Homo sapiens: one gene and its partners. The protein of the gene in region 3 interacts with the protein of the main gene of each other region in a pairwise test. Each region holds a gene or a part of one and is shown on either strand. Other genes may lie near its edges.

Region 1 (7,021 bases), on a different chromosome or scaffold from region 3:
ATTTGTGTGTGTGTGTGTATTCAGAGTGCCAGGTACATAGTAGTTGTGCAATAAATATTAGCTACTTTTCCTCTTTTCTTTCTAAATTTTGATTTTGAGTCTTACCAACAAAACTAAAAAAACAAGCAAAAACTAAATATTAGATTTTTAGAAGCTTATAGGTACAAAAGTAATAAAATCAATTTTCAGTAGAAACTCAAATAGGTGAAAATCAAGTACGGTGTGAAACAATATCTAAGTAATTACATTTCTTCATAATTGAATACCAACAAAAAATCAGTTTTAAGCAAAACTCAGTGGATCGTCATTGATAGGAGTTTTATCTGCTGTTAATGCTGGATAAAATCCAAGAGCGGTTAGCACAACATCTTCATTTGACACACGAGGAAGTGGAGATTTAGCTCCCTGCAGATGACCTTGAGCACGTTTCTCATGCCTTCACTCCTGCTTCATGCAGTGCACTTGCAGTTCTCCATGTGTTCACCCCACACAGGCATTTCAGAATCCATTGGTTGGAACCGGTTTGTGCGTTCTGCAAATGAGATGACTGATGACACCCATCCTCTTGCAGTTGCCTGGGCTTGTCATCTTAGCCTTGCCCTGTGACTACCCTCATTCTCGCCATGGCCACTCAATCCACTGCCAAGCCCTGTAGCCCTTCCTCTTGCTGTGTTGCTCACAGTTCTTGCTTCCTGTTGGTCTCCACTAACACTTCCTCAGGTCAGGCCCTCACAATTTCTTTCTTGGCTAATTGTATTTTCACAACAATGAAAGTGCTGTTCTCTGCACCTTTAGTCTCTCCATTACGGCTTTGCAGTAAGTGGATAAGGCAGGCTCTGATACCAGATTGCCTATATTCAAATCCTGACCTTGGGCCTCTTCTCTGTAACTGGAAATCATAACATTACCCGCATGGTACTGTTAGGAGAAAACGAACATGTTATACATACAAAGGCTTCTCAACACCTACTAAATTGGTAGAAACGACTAAGCCAGTCTACTTTACTTCTCCAGGTTCTTTTATTCCACTAGTCCCCTTAAGAACAATGGTTTTTAGTCAAAATGGGCTGCTCATAGTTCTCTGAGCATATCTCACACTCTTCCAGCTTTCTTTTGCCCATGTTGTTCCCACAGTCTGCAGTGCCAACTGACCTTATTTTGTCTCCTCCAGTCATGATGTTGTTCTTCCTTATAACCATCCTAGAAAGCAGTTGGCTGATATGTATGAAGAGCCTTAAAAATTATCCTGCCTCTGGGCCGAGTTTGGCTGATCATGGCTGGGTTCTTTTACATATTTTGGGGTTGGTTAAATGTAGACTGGTCTTGGGTGGTGATATGGTTTGGCTCTGTGTCCCCACCCAATTCTCATCTCGAATTGTAATTCCCGTGTGTCTAGGGAGGGGCCTGGAATCCCCAAGTGTCAAGGGAGGGAAGTGATCAGGTCATGGGGTTGATTTCCCCCATGCTGTTCTAATGATAGTGAGTGATGGTTTTATAAGTGTTTGGAAGTTCCTCCTTTGTTCTTCTTCTCTCTCTTGCTGCCTTGTGAAGAAGGTCCTTGCTTCCCCTTCACCTTCTGCCATGTTTGTAAGTTTCCTGAGACCTCCCCAACCATGTGGAACTGTGAGTCAATCAAATCCCTTTCCTTTATAAATTACGCAGGCTTGGGTATTTCTTTACAGCAGTGTGAAAATGGACTAATGCAGGTGGCTTCAACCTGGACAACTGGGCTCTCTTACTACATGATCTCTCATTTTCTAGTAGACTAGCCTAGACCTGATTACATGGCAGCAGCAGGGTTCTCAGAAAGGCAAAGCAGAAAAGGTCTTTTGAAGTGTTGGCTTTAAACCAGATCCTCTTCCTTCCACCACATTCCATTGGCCAATGCAGACTGCAAGGCCAGTCCAGCTTCATGGATTAGGAAAGTCGATTTTGCCTCTTGATGGGCTGAACTTCCAAGTCACATTACAGCGGACATGGATAAGGGAGGGGTGAAGAATAGGGGGCATTTTTTTCCCCAATATATCCTACTAGAGATGGACAGAATTCCTACCTTTGAGGGTAGAACATGAAAATTAAGATCTGGCAGTACGGTGTAGTAGTTAAGGGCTCTGGAAACAGCAAGCAGACCCATCACTTACTGACTGGATCATCTCGGCAGATTATGCACATTTTCTATGCTTCAGTTTCCTTACTTCTATTTTTTAATTTTTATTTTGATTTTTTTTGAGACGGAGTCTCGCTCTGTCACCCAGGCTGGAGTGCAGTGGCGTGATCTCGGCTCACTGCAAGCTCTGCCTCCCAGGTTCACACCATTCTCCTGCCTCAGCCTCCCGAGTAGCTGGGACTACAGGCGCCTGCCACCACACCTGGCTGATTTTTTGTATTTTTAGTAGAGATGGGGTTTCGCCATGTTAGCCAGGATGGTCTTGATCTCCTGACCTCATGATCCGCCCACCTCAGCCTCCCAAAGTGCTGGGATTACCGGTGTGAGCCACCGAGCCCGGCCAGTTTCCTCACTTCTAAAATGAGAAGCATTCCTACATCGTGAGCTGTTGAGAGGATTGAATGAGTTAATATTTCTAAAGTGCTTAGAATCTCACTTGGCATAAAATGTGATATGAACTATTATTATTATTATATAAGGCAGGCAAAAGAACATCGTGTCCTGGGTCTGTGTTTTAGTCCCTGCTCAAGGAGCTGCATGCCTAACCCTAACCCTGTATATAATGATATATCATAATATATATGTGTCATGTTTTATCTATTCATCCATCAACGGACAATTGAATTATTTCCACTTTTTGGCAATTGTGAATAATACTGTTGAGTCTCAGCTTTCATTTCCCTTGAGTGTATGCTTAGGAGTGGATCTGAGGTTAAATATTAAGTATTTTGTGACTATAGGAAAAGCAAAGCAAAATATGAAGTCCAAATGTCCCCCTTCCTCTACCGTAGTTTCTCCTGAAACTACTGCCCAGAAATGTTTCTCTTGTCTGTCCCCATAATCCGAATTATGTAACTCTTCCTTATCATCTGTTGGAAAGCATTGCAATAGCTGGGCTACTTGTCTGCCTCACCTACTATATCTGTAAGCTCCTGGAAGGCTTGCTCATCTTTGCTTGCACAGTACCAGCCAGGTAGTGGTAGGCACTCGGTAAACATGAGTGAATGAGTGAATGACAGTTTCCGATTGCCTGTGTGTATTACAAAAACAACCCTCAAAAGAGGTCCAGGCCAGGCGTGGTGGCTCACACCTGTAATCCCAGCACTTTGGGAGGCTGAGATGGGCAGATCACTTGAGGTCAGGAGTTCGAGACCAGCCTGGCCAACATGGCAAAACCCCATCTCTACTAAAAATACAAAATTAGCCAGGTGTGGTGATGCATGCCTGTAATGCCAGCTACTCAGGAGACTGAGGCAGGAGAAATGCTTGGACCCAGGAGGCAGAGGTTGCTGTGAGCCGAGATCACACCACTGCACTCCAGCCTGGGCAAGTGACAGAGCGAGACTCCATCTCAAAAAAAAAAAGAAAGAAAGAAAGAAAGAAAGAAAGAAAGAAAGAAAGAAAGAAAGAAAGAAAGAAAGAAAGAAAGAAAGAAAGAAAGAAAGAAAGAAAAGAGGTGTCCATTTATTGATGCAACTCAGGACAGCTCCCACTGTCTTGTCTTTTCTTTTCTTTTCTTTTCTTTTCTTTTTTTTTTTTTTGAGACAGGGTCTTAGACTCTGTCATCAGACTGGAGTGCAGTGGTACAATCATGGCTCACTGAAGTCTTGGCCTTCTGGGGTCAAGTGATCCTCTCACCTCAGCCTTCTGAGCAGCGCAGCTGGGACTATAGGCATGCGCCATCATACCCAGCTAATTTTTTATTTTTTATTACAGAGATGAGGTCTCACTATGTTGCCCAGGCTGGTCTTGAACTCCTGGGCTCAAGCAATCCTCCCACCTAGGGTTTCCAAAGTGCTGGGATTACAGGTGTGGGCCACTTACGCCTGGCCTCCCACTATCTTTGTTTGAGAACTTTTGATATATACAAGAGGTCCATTCTTCCGTAAGGATGTATTTATGTCCTCAGCTGCAGACAAAGGATTCTGACCACTGGTGGTGTTGGAGCCTGTGGAGCTCAGTGGCCAACTTTGACCTTTGAACTTTAAAGAAGTTCTTAGTCCTTCAGTAGAGAACCTGGAAATAGAACTTCAAATTGTTCAGGTCTATCTGACATGTCTTGGTGGAAAACTGAAGGTCCTTTGCATTTAAGGCTTTGGAGACAGAACGGAGACTGAATTCATGAGACTTCATGCAAGCTTCCATGTCTCTATGTACTTTAATTTCCTTATCTATACAATGAAAATAATACTCACACATAGAGTTATTATGTAGATGAAAAGAGAAAATGTATATAAAAGCATGAGACATAACACCTAGCACATAGTGCTCAATAAATACTCATTATTATTGGAAGGCAGCAGACAAGGGTAACATTTATATTGAGGGATGGAAAATCGGGCCTTACGCTCTATTCTAGGGTCAAATCTGTTGGTATGATCTTATAGCTCACTCCGTGTCCATCTGGTTAGCTGGATAATTTTTTATTTCTTTCAGTCGGAAAGCAAGTGTATACTTTCATAGTTTTGAGGGTCAGAGTTCCTGATTTTATGGGATTTTTGAAATTAAAACAATTTATAATAACTTAATCTCCAATTGCAAAATGTTATTGACACTGCATTTTAATGTAATGTGTATATATGTAATTTCCCTGCTTTAAGGGAGGGTTCAAGACTGACCTGTTTGTCTAGACTTGCTGAATATGTCTCATTATTTTCTGTAATAGTTTGGAGATGATGATGCTATTCTTCTCAATGCAAGTGGAATCTTGTTATACTGAAGTTAGATTTTGCCAAAAATTTTCCTATACATGAAAAGTCAAGAGACTTACTTAGCCACATCCTCTGTTTATGCTACATTGGAATTTCATGGCTAAAAATACAAGGCGTGACTTTCCACTGTACTCACAGGCATTCACTGTGTGCTTTTCCACCTTTGCTGGTATTTGTAACAGTTGGCAGAGCACCAGGATAACCTCTTGCCATCCTTGACCAATATCATGATCACCATGGGCTTGAAAATTGTATAAACATGGAAGCAATCACATAGGTAATCAAGGATATAGAATCAGTCGGATATAAATCTCACTTTGCTTCCCATAATCATGAGTCTTACCTTTCTGCTGTTTGAGCCAAAGCCATTCAGTAGAGAAATGTTGTGCTGGTTCTCCAGAAGTTCAAGAGTAAAGTGATATAATATGGAATTCCATTCAGGACTTAGTAATATGGAGAGTCAAGGAATGTAGCACTATCATAGACTAAGAATTTGGAAAAAACTTTCTAAACAGCCTCTTTGTGGATACAGAGGTTTGAGAGCTGTGGCAAACTGCTTTTTTTCTTTTAAATTGCCTACTAGTCAGGAAGAAATCTTTGCTTAAAGTAAGCATTCTTAATAGGATAAAATAATTTTGGGTTTCATATGGAATAAAATATAAGCAAGAACTGCTAAGACAAGTTTGAAAAGGGAAATTTATGTGGAGGTATTTGCCCTACCATATATGAGAACACTGTAATTAGTCTAGTATTTGTTCAGGAAAAAAGAAAGTTATTTATCAATGAGCTAGAAGAGAATTTCCAGAAAATATTTTGTGTACACTTGGGCATTTAATAAATGATAAAGGTGACACTTCAGTATAGTGGAAAATGGTTTATTTTAGTAGATTATATTGACACACTTGCATCTCAATATATTAATAGAAAAAATGGATTAGTCTCATACCTGTTACCATGCAAAATATAAATTTTAAGTCAGTTGAAAATATAAGCATAAAAGTAAAAAGTAGAAGACAATATTTGAATGCCCTCGGATCAGGGTAGGTCTTTAAGATAAGAAACTCAGAAGCCATTAAAAAAACAGCTCTGACTATATAAATGTTAATTATGGCAAGTCATAAGCAAAGTCAAAGATATACACCATGCTTGGAAAAAATACTTGTATTATTCATGGTAATATGAGCCCTAATTTTAAAAGAACTCCTACAAGTTGAGAAGAAGTCTGACAAGCAAGATTGTTTAGAGAGGAGGACACAGAAGAAGCCACTTGACATGAAAGAAAGCACAACCTGATAGAATCCAGAGTGTCGGCTGGGTGCAGTGGCTCACGCCTGTAATCCCAACACTTTGGGAGGCCAAGGTGGGTGGATCACCTGAGGTCCGGAGTTCGAGACCAGCTTGGCCAACATGGTAAAACCCATCTCTACTAAAAATTAAAAAAAAAAAAAAAATTAGCCTGGTGTGGTGGCGGGTACCTGTAATCCCACCTATTCCAGAGGCTGGGGCAGAGAGAATTGCTTGAACCTGGGAGGCGGAGCTTGCAGTGAGTCAAGATCAGGCCACTGCACTCCAGACTGGGTGACAGAGTGAGCTCCAGCTAAAAAAAAAAAATAAAAAAAAAAAATAAGAGTGTAACAAGAGTGAGATCAATTTTTCAATGCTGGCATGACAATTAGAAGGGACTGATCACATCCGGAGTAGGCAAGATTGTGAAATGTAGCAATCTTTTTGGAAAGTAGTCTGAAAGTATATATTAAAACAAAAAACACAGACTTTTACATAGCAATTCCACCTTGGGAATTCACAGAAAGAAAAGAATCATTTCAAGTGAAGTATGTATGAGAGTGTTTATTATAACATTATTTATAATGGCAAAAAACTAAAAGCAACTGACCTATGGTTAATGAAGTGATTGAAGAAATTATGGCATATTTAGATTATGGCATATTTCGCAGTTCTTTAAAAGAATAAGTTTAAATGTATTGGTCTGAGAGGATGTCTGTGATAGATGAAGTGGGAAAAAAAGCAAACAAGTTGCAGAGTAAGGTATATTATAAGGTTCCTTTTTTTATTTTTAGAGACAGGGCCTCCTTCTGTCCCCAAAGCTGGAGTGTTGTGGTGTGAGCATAGCTCACTGCAGCCT
Region 2 (7,183 bases), on a different chromosome or scaffold from region 3:
TGGCCAGGCTGGTCTTGAACTCTTGACCTCAGGTAATCTGGCCTCCTCGGCCTCCCCTAGTGTTGGGATTACAGGCGTGAGCCACCACCCCTGGCCTTTTTTTTAAAGTATTTTTGATACAGGGTCTCACTCTGTCACCCAGGCTGGAATGCAGTGGCATGGTCTCGGGTCACTGCAACCTCTGCCCCCCACCCCTGGGTTCAAGCGATTCTCCCACCTCAGCCTCCCGAATAGCTGGGATTAGAGGCACCCGCCACCACACCCAGCTAAGTTTTTGTATTTTTTGGTAGAGATGGGATTTTGCTATGTTGGCCAGGTTGGTCTGAAACTCCTGACCTCAAGTGATCCACCTGCCTTGGCCTCCCAAAGTGCTGAGATTACAGGCATGGGCCACCGCGCCTGGGCTTAGTGCAATATTTGAGGCACTCAGATTTTTTTTTTCCTGTGCTGCTGGTTTTGGTCCTATGTGGGCAATAAAACAAGGAACCTTTCAGGAAAGTACTTCTCACACTTTAATGTGCATGCTAATTATCTGGAGAGTCTTGTTAGAATGCAGATTCTGATTCTGCAGGTTTGGGGTGGGGACTGGGATTCTGCATTTCTAACAGGTTCCCAGATAAGGCCAATGTTTCTGGTTCAAGGATCCCACTTAGGGTAGCAGAGCTTTAGACTTAATTCCATCAGCAGATTCCTTATTACCTATTTCTGATAGAATTCTTGGTGCTCTCAGGAATCTGAAGCCCAGATAATAGAGGGAGATCCCAGGTGTCCTCTGCCACCCTGTTAGCTGAGGGAGACCCAAAAACTTTGGCTTCCGTGAAAAGTCCTCCTCCAGTTGTCCCCAAAGTTGTAGCATGAGTCCTTCCAAATCTTTTCTCATGATTATACAAATACATATTCCCCCATATAAGATTAAGATTTTTATATATAGATAGATTTTTTTTTTATTTAGGTTTTTTTTTTTGTTTTTTTTTTGAGACGGAGTGTGGCTCTGTCGCCCAGGCTGGAGTGCAGTGGGGCAATCTCGGCTCACTGCAAGCTCCACCTCCCAGGTTCACGCCATTCTCCTGCCTCAGCCTCCCGAGTAGCTGGGACTACAGGCGCCCGCTACTACGCCCGGCTAATTTTTTGTATTTTTAGTAGAGACAGGGTTTCACCATGTTAGCCAGGATGGTCTTGATCTCCTGACCTCGTGATCCGCCCGCCTCGGCCTCCCAAAGTGCTGGGATTACAGGCGTGAGCCACAGCGCCCGGCCTATGTTTTACATATATAACAATTTATATATAACTACATATATAATATATATAACAGTTTATATATATATATAACAGTTTATATATATAATATATATAACAGTTTATATATATATATATAACAGTTTATATATATAATATATATAACAGTTTATATATATAATATATATAACAGTTTATATATATAATATATAAGTTTATATATTATATATAACAGTTTATATATAACAGTTTATATATAATATATATAAGTTTATATATAACAGTTTATATATATAATATATATAAGTTTATATATAATATATATAAGTTTATATATATGTTTATATATAATATATATAACAGTTTATATATATAATATATATAACAGTTTATATATATAATATATATAACAGTTTATATATATAATATATATAACAGTTTATATATATAAAATATATAACAGTTTATATATATAATATATATAAGTTTATATATATAATATATATAACAGTTTATATATATTATATATATATATATGCACACACACAAAGAGAGAGAGAGAGACTCGCTCTGTCGCCCAGGCTGTAGTGCAGTGGTGTAATCACAGCTCACTATGAGGCAGGAGAACAGGGAATCAGGGTAACCGGGGGTTAAGACATAAGCAAATGAAGGGGTGCAGCCAGTTCTAGGCAGCATACAGGCCACATCTTCAATCCTATGATAACGAGACAGAAGTTTCCACTTCCGCCTCCGATTGACCGTGGGGCCAAATCTCCACTTCAGCCTCTGATTGGCTGTGGGCCAAGTCTCCACTTCAGCCTCTGATTTGGTCGCAGGCCAATCCTTCATAGGTGTAGCCAACTGGAGGCTTCTAAAGGGCACCTAGGGGTGTTGCCAGGTCCCTTTAGCTTAATACAAACCCTGATTGAGGAGGCTCTTGAGCAGCTTGCTCTAACCAGCTGCCGCTATGAATCGTCTTCAATAAATCTATGCTTTTGTTATTCCGTTCTTCTGTTGCTGTTTGTCTTTCGTTGCCCTTCTGTTACTTTATGTGTTTTGTTCAACACGCCAAGAACCTGGACAACTCTATGCTGGTAACAACTGCAGGTAACCTGGTAACAACTGCAGTTTCAAACTCTCCTGGGCTCAACCCCAGCCTCCCAGGTAGCTGAGACTATAGACGCATGCCACCACACCTGGCTAATTTTTTTATTTTTATTTTTATTTTTGGAGACAGAATCTCACTCTGTCGCCCAGGCTGGAATGCAATGGCATGATCTCGGCTCACTGCAACCTCCGCCTCCCAGGTTCAAGCGATTCTCCTGCCTCGGACTCACAAGTAGCTGGGTTTACAGGAGCACACTACCACGCCTGGCTAATTTTTGTATTTTTAGTAGAGATGGGGTTTCACCATGTTGACCAGGCTGGTCTCAAACTCCTGAACTCAAGTGATGCTTCCTGGCTCGGCCTCCTGAAGTGCTAGGGTTACAGATGTAGTTTTTAAAGTTTTTGTAGAGTGGGGTCTTGCTGTGTTGCCCAGGCTGGTCTTAGACTCCTGGCCTCATGTGATCCTCCTCGGTCTCCCAAAGTGCTGTGATTACAGGTGTGAGCCATTGTGCCCAGCCCAATTTTTAATTAAAAAATGGAATGATGGAATGCACATTACTTTGCATCTTTTCCCCCTTAAAAATACATTCTTAGTATACCTAAAGGAGTAAATCTACCTCATTCTTTTGAAAAGTGGCCTAATATTCCATAGAATGGGTGTATCGTGATTTATTCAATTTATTTAATGTATCAGTGGGCATTCTGGCTGGTTCCAGATTTTTGCCATTGAACAATCTCATGCATACATCTTTATGATGTGGTGCACTTAAAATCTTTAAGAGACAGATTCAATATCTTAAGGTGTAACAACCACCCAGATCATGGTACTTTTATCCTTATATTAAAATTTTTTTCTGTTAACCTTGGATAGCTGCTTACATATTTTTTCTTTTTCAAAATTTTTCTATTAACCTTGACATGGTGCTTTTACTTCCTAAAGTGGAATTCCTGTATGAAAGCCTATGAGCTTTTATATCTTACTCATTGCAGCTGCATTACTGTGGGAGCTGTCCCTCTAGAGACACTGGGCTGCAATGGGAAGTGTCAGGGAGAGCTTAAGCTCCATATCACTTGAGTCTAAACCTGGAGGGATAGAGCGTGTCCGTGAGGATCCCAGGGCCTGGAGAGCAATTTAGGGTAATATTCAGAAAGCAGCGCTCAGGAGAAGCACTGGGACGCTGTTTAGGTAAAATCAACCCAAAAGACCCTGATTCCCAGAGTACTTTGAGGTCCAGAAGAACTGGGCTGGAAGCAGGTCCTGCTATTAATTGGCTGTGATCTTGGGCAAGTTATTTAACTTCTCCAGGTCACAGTTTGCTCTTTGGAAAACGGAGATAAGTCACACCTGCTTTCAGGGCGGACACCCTTACTTTACATCAGAATCATCCGATGCCATTCCTAGCGTTTCGGCTTCAGTAGGTGGGAATCAATTATTTGCATTTCTAATAGGTAATCAGTTGATAATGATGCGGCCGGTCCGGTACACTCGAAAAACCACTGTTCCAGGATATTCCAAGATGTTCCAAGAGTCTTAAACACCTGGTGCAGTTCCGAGCACAAGGCACACGAACGGTGCTATTAGCGTTTCTAACCCCGCAGAGAACTCCTCGCACCCCAGTCCTCAAAATCCCGCCCCGGACAGCGGAGGCCGGGGCAGTAGCTTCCAGACCCAATTGCCCGCGCAAGGGGGCGTGGCAGCATCGTTGGGCGGGGCCGCCTGTAAGAGAACGCGGCTAAAGGTGGGGCCAAGCGTGCGGTTTGCTGCGCCTGCGTGAGGAAAAAGAGGGGGGCGTGGCTCCAGGCCGGAAGAGGGAGTCTGTAGGGGCGGGCCGGCTGGCGTCCCCTTTCCGGCCGGTCCCCATGGAGGCGCTGGGGAAGCTGAAGCAGTTCGATGCCTACCCCAAGACTTTGGAGGACTTCCGGGTCAAGACCTGCGGGGGCGCCACCGGTAGGCCGCAGCGGGGCCGGGGTCGCGTGGAGGGGGGCGTCCTAGAGCTTAGCCCGGGCTCCTGGACTCTGACTGGCCTGCCGGTGTCTGAGGGAGCGGATTCGAGGCCATTCTGACCCTCGCCCCTTGTCCTGCAGTGACCATTGTCAGTGGCCTTCTCATGCTGCTACTGTTCCTGTCCGAGCTGCAGTATTACCTCACCACGGAGGTAAGGGGCGGGGCTTAGTGCGTGGGCGGGGCTTGGCATTCTAGGAGTAGGACCTTTAGGGGTGGGAGTGGGGAAGGAGAGGTTTGGGGCTAAGTCTTACTGAGGTAGCGCTGCCCCAGGTGCATCCTGAGCTCTACGTGGACAAGTCGCGGGGAGATAAACTGAAGATCAACATCGATGTACTTTTTCCGCACATGCCTTGTGCCTGTGAGTACCTCACCATGGGTGGGACTGGAGAGACCCAGGGTTCTCATGTGGGCTGCCAGATTCACACCTCCACCCTTAGGTTCTGGACTGGACCCCAGGACAACCTCCTTCTCCTCATCCCGTTCTGCCCCAAGACAGGCCCAGTATCCCCTTCCCCTCCAAAACCCACATCCCCTTGTCCCTAGGGTCCCAGTACCTTAGCCTGATTTTCCTGCTTCCAGATCTGAGTATTGATGCCATGGATGTGGCCGGAGAACAGCAGCTGGATGTGGAACACAACCTGTTCAAGCAACGACTAGATAAAGATGGCATCCCCGTGAGCTCAGAGGCTGAGCGGCATGGTAACCAGGGGAGGGGGCCGGGTCTCAGATCCCAAAGCTGGATGTACCCAAGCCTATCTGCTAGCAAGTGAACTGTGGCAGGCATAGTGATACATTAAACAACTAAGAGCTAGAGAAGTCAAGTGACTTGCCTAGGGTCCCCCAGCTAGTAAGAGTCAGAGTGAGCTAAAATCCTCTATACATATCGAGTCAGGTAATCTACCTGGCTATTATTCTCAGAGGTCCTCAATACCTGCAGATGGTAGTTTGAATACCAGAGGTTTGAAGATAGGTCTTATGTGCTCTTGCCTTGGTAGAACTGTCTAGATGGACCCAGGCTTCTTTGAGTGTTTGCTTTCCCAGCCCATTGGCTTAATTCAGCCCTTAATGCTCTTCCCCTTTGGAATGCAGGTGGTTTAATGAGAATTTAGGTTCTCAAGTCAGATTGCCTGGGTTCACATCTAGCTTTGTCTCCTGCAGTCTGTGAGCTTCAGCTAGAAAGTGGTAATAAAACAGTAGTACCAACCACATGGAATTGTAAGATCAAATGAAGTCATATGTGTAAAATGCCTGGTACAGAGTGGGTACCCACTTTTACCTTCCTTTCCTTTATCTTGGTGGCTTCCCAATTCCCTTCGTTAACTCAGTTTCCCACCACAGCAAACTGTCCTCAAAGCTGGGATTTCTAACACCTTAGAGATTACTCTGGTGGGGAGTTTTATCATTCGTTGTTTCAGCAGATTAATGCAGGACACCAGTGGAACCAACATAATTTGCTATAGGACTGGATGTGGAGTGGAGGAGAGCAAAGTCATGGTTGTTGATTCCAACGCTTTCAGCCTGAGCAAATGAATGACTTGAGATGGAGATGACTGGAGGAGAAGGTTTTTTTGGTGGGAGGGAGGAGTGGCTATTGGATATCCACTGCTGTGTAACAAAGTACTCCAAAAGTTAGTAGTTTGATACAATAAAAATGTGTTTTTTCAGTTTCCCTGGGTCAGGAATTTAGGAGTGGCTTGTTTGGGTGATTCGGGATTAGGGTATCTCACGAGGTTGCAGTCATCTAAGGATTGATGGGGCACTGAAGAATCTACTATCTATCTATCTATCTATCTATCTATCTATCTATCTATCTATCTATCTGTCTATCTTGAGACAGAGTCTCACTTTGTCGCCCAGGCTGGAGTGCAGTGGCGCGATCTTGGCTCACTGCAACCTCCGCCTCCCAGGTTCAAGTGATTCTCCTGCCTCAACCTCCCGAGTAGCTGGGATTACAGGCCTGTGCCACCATGCCCAGCTAATTTTTTGTATTTTTAGTAGAGACGGGGTTGCACCTTGTTGGGCCAGATGGTCTTGATCTCTTGACCTTGTGATCCACCCGCCTCAGCCTTCCAAAGTGCTGGGATTACAGGCATGAGCCACTGCGCCTGGCCTACTTATTTGTTGTTTAAATTTATTTTTTTTCTGTCAAGGTGTTCTTTATTTCAGAGAGAGGGCAGGACAGGGGGCTCAGTCTTTCTTGGCATCAGCTTTCCTCATGATGGCTGGGACATTGCTCAGCTCCTCCTGCCTCCTCTTAGTGCGGATGTGCGTCCCCACTCTTTTCTTGATGAACTTGAGGGCCCGTTTGTCCTTGGAGACCTTGAGTAACACCATGGCGTGCCGCTCATACGGGGCGAAACCACACACCTCTCGGATCATGTCCCACATGAATTTGGTGTTTGGTCAGGCGCCCGCGGCGGCAGCTGTGCCTGGGCTTGCTCATGTTCTTGGTCATCTTGTGGCCCTTGTCAAGGCACACGGCCATAGTGGGTAGCACAGAGCCATGGCTGCTGCTCTCCAATGGCAGCTGTGGCAGAAGGGCTGGTGCCACGCGGGGATCTACTTTTTTTTTTTTTTTTTTTTTGAGTCACGCTCTGTCACCCAGGCTGGAGTGCAATGGTGCGATTTCAGCTCACTGCAACCTCTGCCTCCCGGCTTCAAGTGATTCACCTGCCTCAGCCTTCTGAGTAGCTGGGGTTACAGGCGCCTGCCCCCACACCCGGCTACTTTTTGTATTTTTGGTAGAGACAGGGTTTCACCATCGTGGCCAGGCTGGTCTCAAACTCCTGACCTCAGGTGATCCACCCGCCTTGGCCTCCCAAAGTGTTGGGATTA
Region 3 (7,783 bases):
CTGGCTTATATGCTGCATCCACATAACCATAGATAAAGGTGCTGCCGGAGCCACCAATGGCAAAAGGCTGTCGAGTCAGCATTCCTCCCAGGGTTCCATATACCTGGGAAAGGGATCCTCAGGTTAAAGAATCATCAAGCCCTTCCTTCCCACTGAGACATTAAGTGGTCTCTGCACCCTGCAATGAAGCCCTGGTATCTCATATCCCCAAAGTACTATGCTTTCAGAGGTAGTGTCCTTGGAACTCATTGCTAGAATGACATAGGACTTCCATCTTCCTCTGCAGGAGAGTGGGGAAGCCCAGAGGAGAGAGTGCTTTGGGAGAAACTCACCTGACCTCCTTCACGTTGGTCCCAGCCAGCTACCATGAGATGTGCAGACAAGTCCTCTCGATATTTATAGCTGATATTTCTCACCACATTTGCAGCAGCCAAAACAAGTGGAGGTTCCTCCAGTTCTATCCTGAGGGAAATATTAGGAATAAAGGTTGATAGAATTTTAAGTCTCATTCTCCTATACTGTTACCATCATCCCTGCTAAACGACCCCTGAAAACTGTAACTGCAATAGCTCAAACTGCAGCCTCCCTCCCACATGTACAGGGGAACCAGAGTCCCACACCACCAACTGGTAAGAAGCTTTCAATTGCTCACTCTTTTGCTCAGCCCCACCCACATAACTTTCTTTTGGCTGCAAGGACCCTGCTCTTATGGGGAAAAGCAGATAAGGTTACTTCCGTCCCAACGACCTTGATTTCTCGTATGGTAACTGCCTGATATTATGGTGGGTCACAATATCACCTTCTTCCTGATTATTTATATCAGGATAGTGATTTACAGCTTTTAAACTGTGTTCACATATAGAATGTGGTTCTCAAAATAACCGTCTCATGAGGTACTATATTATCTCCACTTTACAGATGCAGAAACTGACAGATTCAAGTGCCAGCAAGAGCCGAAACAAGACTTTTCCATTTCCCAGTGTCCAGCTCCTGGAACAGCACACTGTACAGGGATTCATGCAGGTTGGGGGAGCTCTAGTGGGTGGGGAGTCAGAACTCCAGAGCTTCATACCCATGGAGCTCCAGCTGGTAGGCGGCCATGTCGGCCACGGCTTGGGCATCAGCAGCTGAACCAGAGAGTGCACAGTAGATGCGCTCGTGCAGCGGGGACAGCTTGTCAAACACTCGGTTCACCACCGCCTCGCTGTCAGGAGGGAGTCAACAGTCACCAAGTTAAAACTCAGGTTTTTTTTTTTTTTTTTTTTTTTGAGACAGTCTCACTCTGTCACCCAGGCTGGAGTGCAGTGGATCAATCTTGGGCTCACTGCAAACTTCGCCTCCCTGGTTCAAGTGATTCTCCTGCCTCAGCCTCCCGAATAGCTGGGATTACAGGCACCCACCACCAAGCCCAGCTAATGTTTGTATTTTCAGTAGAGACAAGGTCCCAACATGTTGGCCAGGCTGGTCTCAAACTCCTGACCTCAAATATCTGCCCACCTCGGCATCCCAAAGTGCTGAGATTATAGATGTGAGCCACTGCACCCAACCAGAACTCAGGAATTTTTGAGGGTGATCATTCAATGTCTCTCAAATTTCTTTGACAAGAGAATAGCATGAAGTTTAATGCTTGGATTAAAGCAGGAGGCAAATAATCATCTCAGATATTATTAATCACTGCAGATGTTAATCAAAATTAGGCTTATTTTTCAGGCTTAGATTTTATAACAAAGCAAAAAATGCTAAGGTAAGAAAAATATGCCTCATCAATTTTCTTTGCTATTAACAATCTTGAGAGAGTTATGTTCTATGGAACATAATGTCAGTAATATTGACCTAACCCCATATACTCATTTTGCATGTGAGGAAATTGGTTAGGAGTGGGAGAAGAGACAAAATAGTTCAATATATGGTAAATGAGAAACCAGGTATCTGCTTGACAGAATCATCTTTTTGATCCCTAAGCACAGATGGAAAGAAGACCCTCAAAAATCTATCTCCTGTCCCCCTCTCAGACCCTATTCCTTTACTCATCCCTGTACACTACTGGGACAGGTCACATACACATTCAGACCCCAGATCCTCCTCCACAAATTCAGAGACCCAAGCACCCACCAAATAGCTTATCATAGTGGCTTTTGGGGAAGGTCAACTCCATTCCTCCAAGGCTCCAGTTTGCCAGTCTTTTCATGAATGGGTAAGGAAAGTGTGTATTTGAGGCCATTAGCTTCTTTCCAAATGCATACATCTTCACTTTTACTCACCCTGCAGACACTCGGGAATCAGAACCCATCACAACGCCCCCGTCAAACTCCACTGCCATGATGGTGGTCTGCAGAGACACAGAATATGGAATGTCAGGGCAAGAACAGCCTTGATGCCCTCATGTTAGAGAAGAAGAAACATTCCCAGAGAGGCGAAGTGACTGGCTCAAAGATTACACAGTAACAGGCCAGAGCTGACTGTCAGTACAGGCTTTTTTTCCCTTCATCTTTCCACTTTCTCTATTGCTTCATCCGGCTGCAGGGGAATGCCACAGCCCAGCTGTGATACAACACAGAAAGAACTGTGTCCCTAAGTTCCAACTTGCCTAGTGGAATCCTCTCCACTGTAGAGAGGTGGAGATGAGGCTCCTACAGGTAGAAGTGAAGCAGCTCCGCAAGTGAAAATTATCTCCAACGGAAGGGCTCATAGTATGTGCAGATGTGGTGTAGACCCAACACAGAGTAATTGACTATGATCTTGGGAAACAAGGTCAGTCTATTTTTTTTTTTTTGGTCCACAATCCTCCACTCTCACCCCCCATTTCATCAGAAGTGAGCTCTTCCAATTTACTGAACATTGGAAAAAATCGAGGAGGGCAGTGGTTAGCATGGCCAGGGGCAAGGCAGGAGAGAAGCAGCAAGGAACACATACAGATGGTTGAAAATAAAAGTTTCAGTTATGGAATTTCCGATCAAGAGGTAAATACATATCTCAGCAGCCAGGGAGGTAAATTTGTACCAAGAGATAATTTGACTGAGAAGTTTAAGCTGACTTTTCCAGGTCAAGAAAAGAATCAAGAAGAAGTGAGGGAAGATAAAGCTACATTTATTCTACTATTGAGTTGGAAGGAGCCTTAAAGATCCTCGGTTCAAATGAGGAAACCAAGTCACAGAAAATGCAAACGACTTATGCAAAGTCACACAGAGTTAATAGTAGACCTGGGACTAAAATTCAGGTCTAACTCTTATCCCTTGTTTCCACTTCTACTTCCTACTTGCCACTGCTCATTTGGCAGTGAGGGGAGATTTCCCAAATTATAAGTGGTTTCACTGTGTCTTTCTTACCAGGCCGTAAGTTACTCTGGCCCCAAAGGACGCTCCTCTGAGTATGCTTTCCGACGGACCGACTTATCATGAATAGAGGGTCAAAGAACAGGGTTAACTTCAAGTTAGAGGCTATTCCTCTCTAACAAAGCCGCCCCCAAGCCACGAGTGGTGGCAGTAGTCCAGAGCAGAAGCCAGCCAGCCAGTCTTGGGGCTGCCATCTGCCCCAGGCGCCCATCCTAAGCAAAGTCCCCCCAGTGGGCACATGGGAGTGGGCAGGGAAGACACAGGGAAGGGAGTAAGGCAGCATCTGGGCCAAGGAGAGGCCTTCCTGGGTCAAGCTAGGGAAGGGCATCACTAGTTAACACAGAACGCCCATTATCAGTGCTTGGGCTAAGAGTTGCCCAGTGGCAAGTTTATCAAAAGTCTGTGTGATGAGTTGGTCCTTCTCAATAAGTGCCTATATTTCCTTCTCCCAAGTGCTGTTCTACTTCACCCAGGGCACCATTTCCTCATCTCTTTGCACCATCCCCAACCCCCTTTCTTGATTTAACCAGCCCCCACTGTCCGGGACCAGAGTGAAAGCGAAAGCGCTTTAGAGTAGCTTCCCGTTGACGCTTCCAGCTAAGAGTCAAAGCACCCGCTTTTTCCACCAGCCTCGCGTGCCTGTTCCCTTCACGGACACTCTAGACGACCCCCCTCAGAAAAGAAATACTCTATGCTCATTGCGGGTTGCAAGCGCTGGCTGCTACAGGCGACCTCCCTGCGCTCCCGTTGGTCTCTGCATTCACTTCTCCGCGCGCGCTTCCAGGGTCCCCTGGCCGCTGCATCTCCTCCACCCCTCTGCCAACCCTCAAGCCCAGACCCATTACCCCGGTGTGGACTTCTCCCGCCCGGGGTAAGTCCCCGGTTGGTGCTCCCGCCCGCAGCATCCCTGCAAGGCACCGCTCTCCTCGCCGCCTGGGGCACTGGTTTCCAACCTGGGACAGCGCACAACGCGCAGCCGACAGCCCCGCCCCTTCGCGGCGCCGCCAGGAGGCGCCTGGGTGCTGCGGGGCTGCTTTGCGCGCGGCGCTAACGTGTGTAGGGCAGATCTGCCCCGAGACAAGTGACGAGGCAGCCCCGCCCTGAGGCTGGGGTGGGAAAACTGGTGCAAGTGGAAAGGCAGGAGGCAGGGAGAGGCGAGAAGGGTGTGCGTGATGGAGAAAATTGGGCACCAGGGCTGCTCCCGAGATTCTCAGATCTGATTTCCACGCTTGCTACCAAAATAGTCTGGGCAGGCCACTTTTGGAAGTAGGCGTTATCTAGTGAGCAGGCGGCCGCTTTCGATTTCGCTTTCCCCTAAATGGCTGAGCTTCTCGCCAGCGCAGGATCAGCCTGTTCCTGGGACTTTCCGAGAGCCCCGCCCTCGTTCCCTCCCCCAGCCGCCAGTAGGGGAGGACTCGGCGGTACCCGGAGCTTCAGGCCCCACCGGGGCGCGGAGAGTCCCAGGCCCGGCCGGGACCGGGACGGCGTCCGAGTGCCAATGGCTAGCTCTAGGTGTCCCGCTCCCCGCGGGTGCCGCTGCCTCCCCGGAGCTTCTCTCGCATGGCTGGGGACAGTACTGCTACTTCTCGCCGACTGGGTGCTGCTCCGGACCGCGCTGCCCCGCATATTCTCCCTGCTGGTGCCCACCGCGCTGCCACTGCTCCGGGTCTGGGCGGTGGGCCTGAGCCGCTGGGCCGTGCTCTGGCTGGGGGCCTGCGGGGTCCTCAGGGCAACGGTTGGCTCCAAGAGCGAAAACGCAGGTGCCCAGGGCTGGCTGGCTGCTTTGAAGCCATTAGCTGCGGCACTGGGCTTGGCCCTGCCGGGACTTGCCTTGTTCCGAGAGCTGATCTCATGGGGAGCCCCCGGGTCCGCGGATAGCACCAGGCTACTGCACTGGGGAAGTCACCCTACCGCCTTCGTTGTCAGTTATGCAGCGGCACTGCCCGCAGCAGCCCTGTGGCACAAACTCGGGAGCCTCTGGGTGCCCGGCGGTCAGGGCGGCTCTGGAAACCCTGTGCGTCGGCTTCTAGGCTGCCTGGGCTCGGAGACGCGCCGCCTCTCGCTGTTCCTGGTCCTGGTGGTCCTCTCCTCTCTTGGTAAGGGGAACGCAGGGCAAGAGGGGAGGACACAAGGGGACTGGGACAGGAATCAAAGGTAATTGTCAGTAAGGTAGAGTAGCGTGGGTTCTGGGAAATGTGGAGCAGGAGAAGGACTCCTAGCGTGGGTCTTGGAACACCACTTCGGTGTAGAAGAAACGGCACTGGACTGGCGGGGGCCAGAGGTTCTGGGCTCCATTGCTGACCGGGTCTTGATTCTTTGGGCCACGCCGGAAGCGGGGAAATCCTTTGCTCTGGGGCCGAAGGGCGGGGCATCCTCATCTCTAACAGGAGGCTTTTCTACTTCATGATCTCCAGCCTTCCTAATAAAATCCTGAAAGTTCTGGTAGAGCAACCACAGGGTAGTGAGTTCCAGGGCAGCCTATTTAGGTTCGGGATTGAGACGTCAGTGTTTCCTTTCTGCTGATGCCCTCCAGGATAATGGTGAGGGGGAGGAGGCGTGGTGGGGCCAGTCTGACTGGAACTGACCTACTTAGACTTAATATTTGTGCGTGACCTCTCTTCTCTTTCTCCAGGGGAGATGGCCATTCCATTCTTTACGGGCCGCCTCACTGACTGGATTCTACAAGATGGCTCAGCCGATACCTTCACTCGAAACTTAACTCTCATGTCCATTCTCACCATAGCCAGGTCTGGGGGCTGAAAATGGGGCACCCTGCAAATGAGGGAGTTGGAAGTTGGGGCTGCTGTCCGAAATGCACTTATATGGGGATACCTGGGACCTTCAGTCTGTTCCCTGAACACACCCTGATCCCCTTTTTTTCCGGGTTCTTTATAGTGCAGTGCTGGAGTTCGTGGGTGACGGGATCTATAACAACACCATGGGCCACGTGCACAGCCACTTGCAGGGAGAGGTGTTTGGGGCTGTCCTGCGCCAGGAGACGGAGTTTTTCCAACAGAACCAGACAGGTTTCTCCTGAAACTCTTTCATTATACGCCATGTACTGTTCATATCCTCATACATCTGCTTTGATCTCCCCCCTCCCCGCTCTCTCTCTCTCACACACACATACACACATTGTTCCTTCTCATTCTTGATATACCCTCTCCCTGTCTCTCTCTCTCTGTCTCTGTCTCTCTCTCTCTCTCTCTCACACACACACACACACAATTGTTTTTCTCATTCTTGATATACCTCAGGAGCAAAATATTGTCCTCCTTACCTTAAGAAAAACCTAGAGTTTTCATCTAGCATTTTCTTATAAATCTATTCCTATGTATCCTTAGATAGAAACCATAGAATTTCAAACCTGGAAATTTTGAGCTCATAGAGACCAACTGCCTCATCTGACAGAGAAGGAAACTGAGGCCAAGACCCTAAATGCTGAAACTGCACAGTTACATATGGCTAGAGACACACTTGGGGTTAGAACCCTGGTCTCTTGAGTGCTCCACAGACTTCGGCATGCTTTCTAGCAGCACTAGAAGCTGTACAGTTACATATGGCTAGAGATAGACCTGGGGTTAGAACCCTAGTCCCAGTGAGTGCTCCACAGACTTTGGCATGCTTCCTAGCAGCACCCTCCTCCTCCATCTCTGTTATGTGACCAGTTTAAGCTCTTCCTGCCTGTGTGTATAGCATGGGACATACAGGTTCTCTAGGGAACAGAAAGCTTTCAGGAAAATGGAAATTCACATGTGCATTAATGACTTTATAATTAAAATGAAGGTCAGGCCTTTCCTCTTTAACACTCATCTTCCCTGCACTGAGATTTGCAGACCTCTGGAGAACCCTAACCTTGTTTCCTGCAGCCTCCTTAGAACCCCATGTTGACACCCCTGACCCTGGCATCCTGGCTCATTGTTAGTTCGTCTCATCACTTGGAACCTGTCTGATTCACCTCACTCTCTTCTCCCCAACCCTGCAGGTAACATCATGTCTCGGGTAACAGAGGACACGTCCACCCTGAGTGATTCTCTGAGTGAGAATCTGAGCTTATTTCTGTGGTACCTGGTGCGAGGCCTATGTCTCTTGGGGATCATGCTCTGGGGATCAGTGTCCCTCACCATGGTCACCCTGATCACCCTGCCTCTGCTTTTCCTTCTGCCCAAGAAGGTGGGAAAATGGTACCAGGTATGTTCATGGAGTTGGCCCGCTCTACACAGACCCTCATCTCCCAGACTTGGCAGACTCAGTTCCTCTCACATTGCTTTCAGTCCAGCTTTCCTGGCACCCTTACTGATTCTCCATCTTCATGGAACACCCTGTCCCTGTGGTCCATGTTCCCAGGTTGCTCAACATTAACCTCCATACTCTCTGGGTCTTCTTTTCTAGCTTCTCCCCACAATCTGTCTTTAAGAATTTGATCCCCAACCCGTTCTGAGTCATTTTCC

What was found. Proteins that work in one complex are often made in the same cells at the same time.
Region 1: the proteins of TAP1 (region 3) and SLC10A6 interact in binary tests that used the Homo sapiens proteins (3 or more experiments, as listed by UniProt).
Region 2: the proteins of TAP1 (region 3) and ERGIC3 interact in binary tests that used the Homo sapiens proteins (3 or more experiments, as listed by UniProt).

Annotation. Positions count from the first base shown.
Region 1 is NC_000004.12:86,839,385-86,846,405, reverse strand, and holds part of SLC10A6 (sodium-dependent organic anion transporter), read left to right. Parts: intron 1-7,021. UniProt on the Homo sapiens protein: Transports sulfoconjugated steroid hormones from the extracellular compartment into the cytosol in a sodium-dependent manner without hydrolysis.
Region 2 is NC_000020.11:35,537,895-35,545,077, forward strand, and holds the start of ERGIC3 (endoplasmic reticulum-Golgi intermediate compartment protein 3), read left to right. Parts: upstream 1-4,183; 5' UTR 4,184-4,203; coding exon 4,204-4,291; intron 4,292-4,428; coding exon 4,429-4,499; intron 4,500-4,618; coding exon 4,619-4,706; intron 4,707-4,927; coding exon 4,928-5,047; intron 5,048-6,488; exon of another isoform or gene 6,489-6,888; intron 6,889-7,183. UniProt on the Homo sapiens protein: Possible role in transport between endoplasmic reticulum and Golgi. Positively regulates trafficking of the secretory proteins SERPINA1/alpha1-antitrypsin and HP/haptoglobin.
Region 3 is NC_000006.12:32,850,684-32,858,466, reverse strand, and holds the start of TAP1 (antigen peptide transporter 1), read left to right. Parts: upstream 1-4,762; 5' UTR 4,763-4,830; coding exon 4,831-5,428; intron 5,429-5,705; exon of another isoform or gene 5,706-5,872; intron 5,873-5,964; coding exon 5,965-6,079; intron 6,080-6,227; coding exon 6,228-6,358; intron 6,359-7,317; coding exon 7,318-7,523; intron 7,524-7,783. Other genes in the region: PSMB9 (proteasome subunit beta type-9 precursor), read right to left, coding at 1-103, 333-462, 1,073-1,204, 2,262-2,329, 4,178-4,237. UniProt on the Homo sapiens protein: ABC transporter associated with antigen processing. In complex with TAP2 mediates unidirectional translocation of peptide antigens from cytosol to endoplasmic reticulum (ER) for loading onto MHC class I (MHCI) molecules.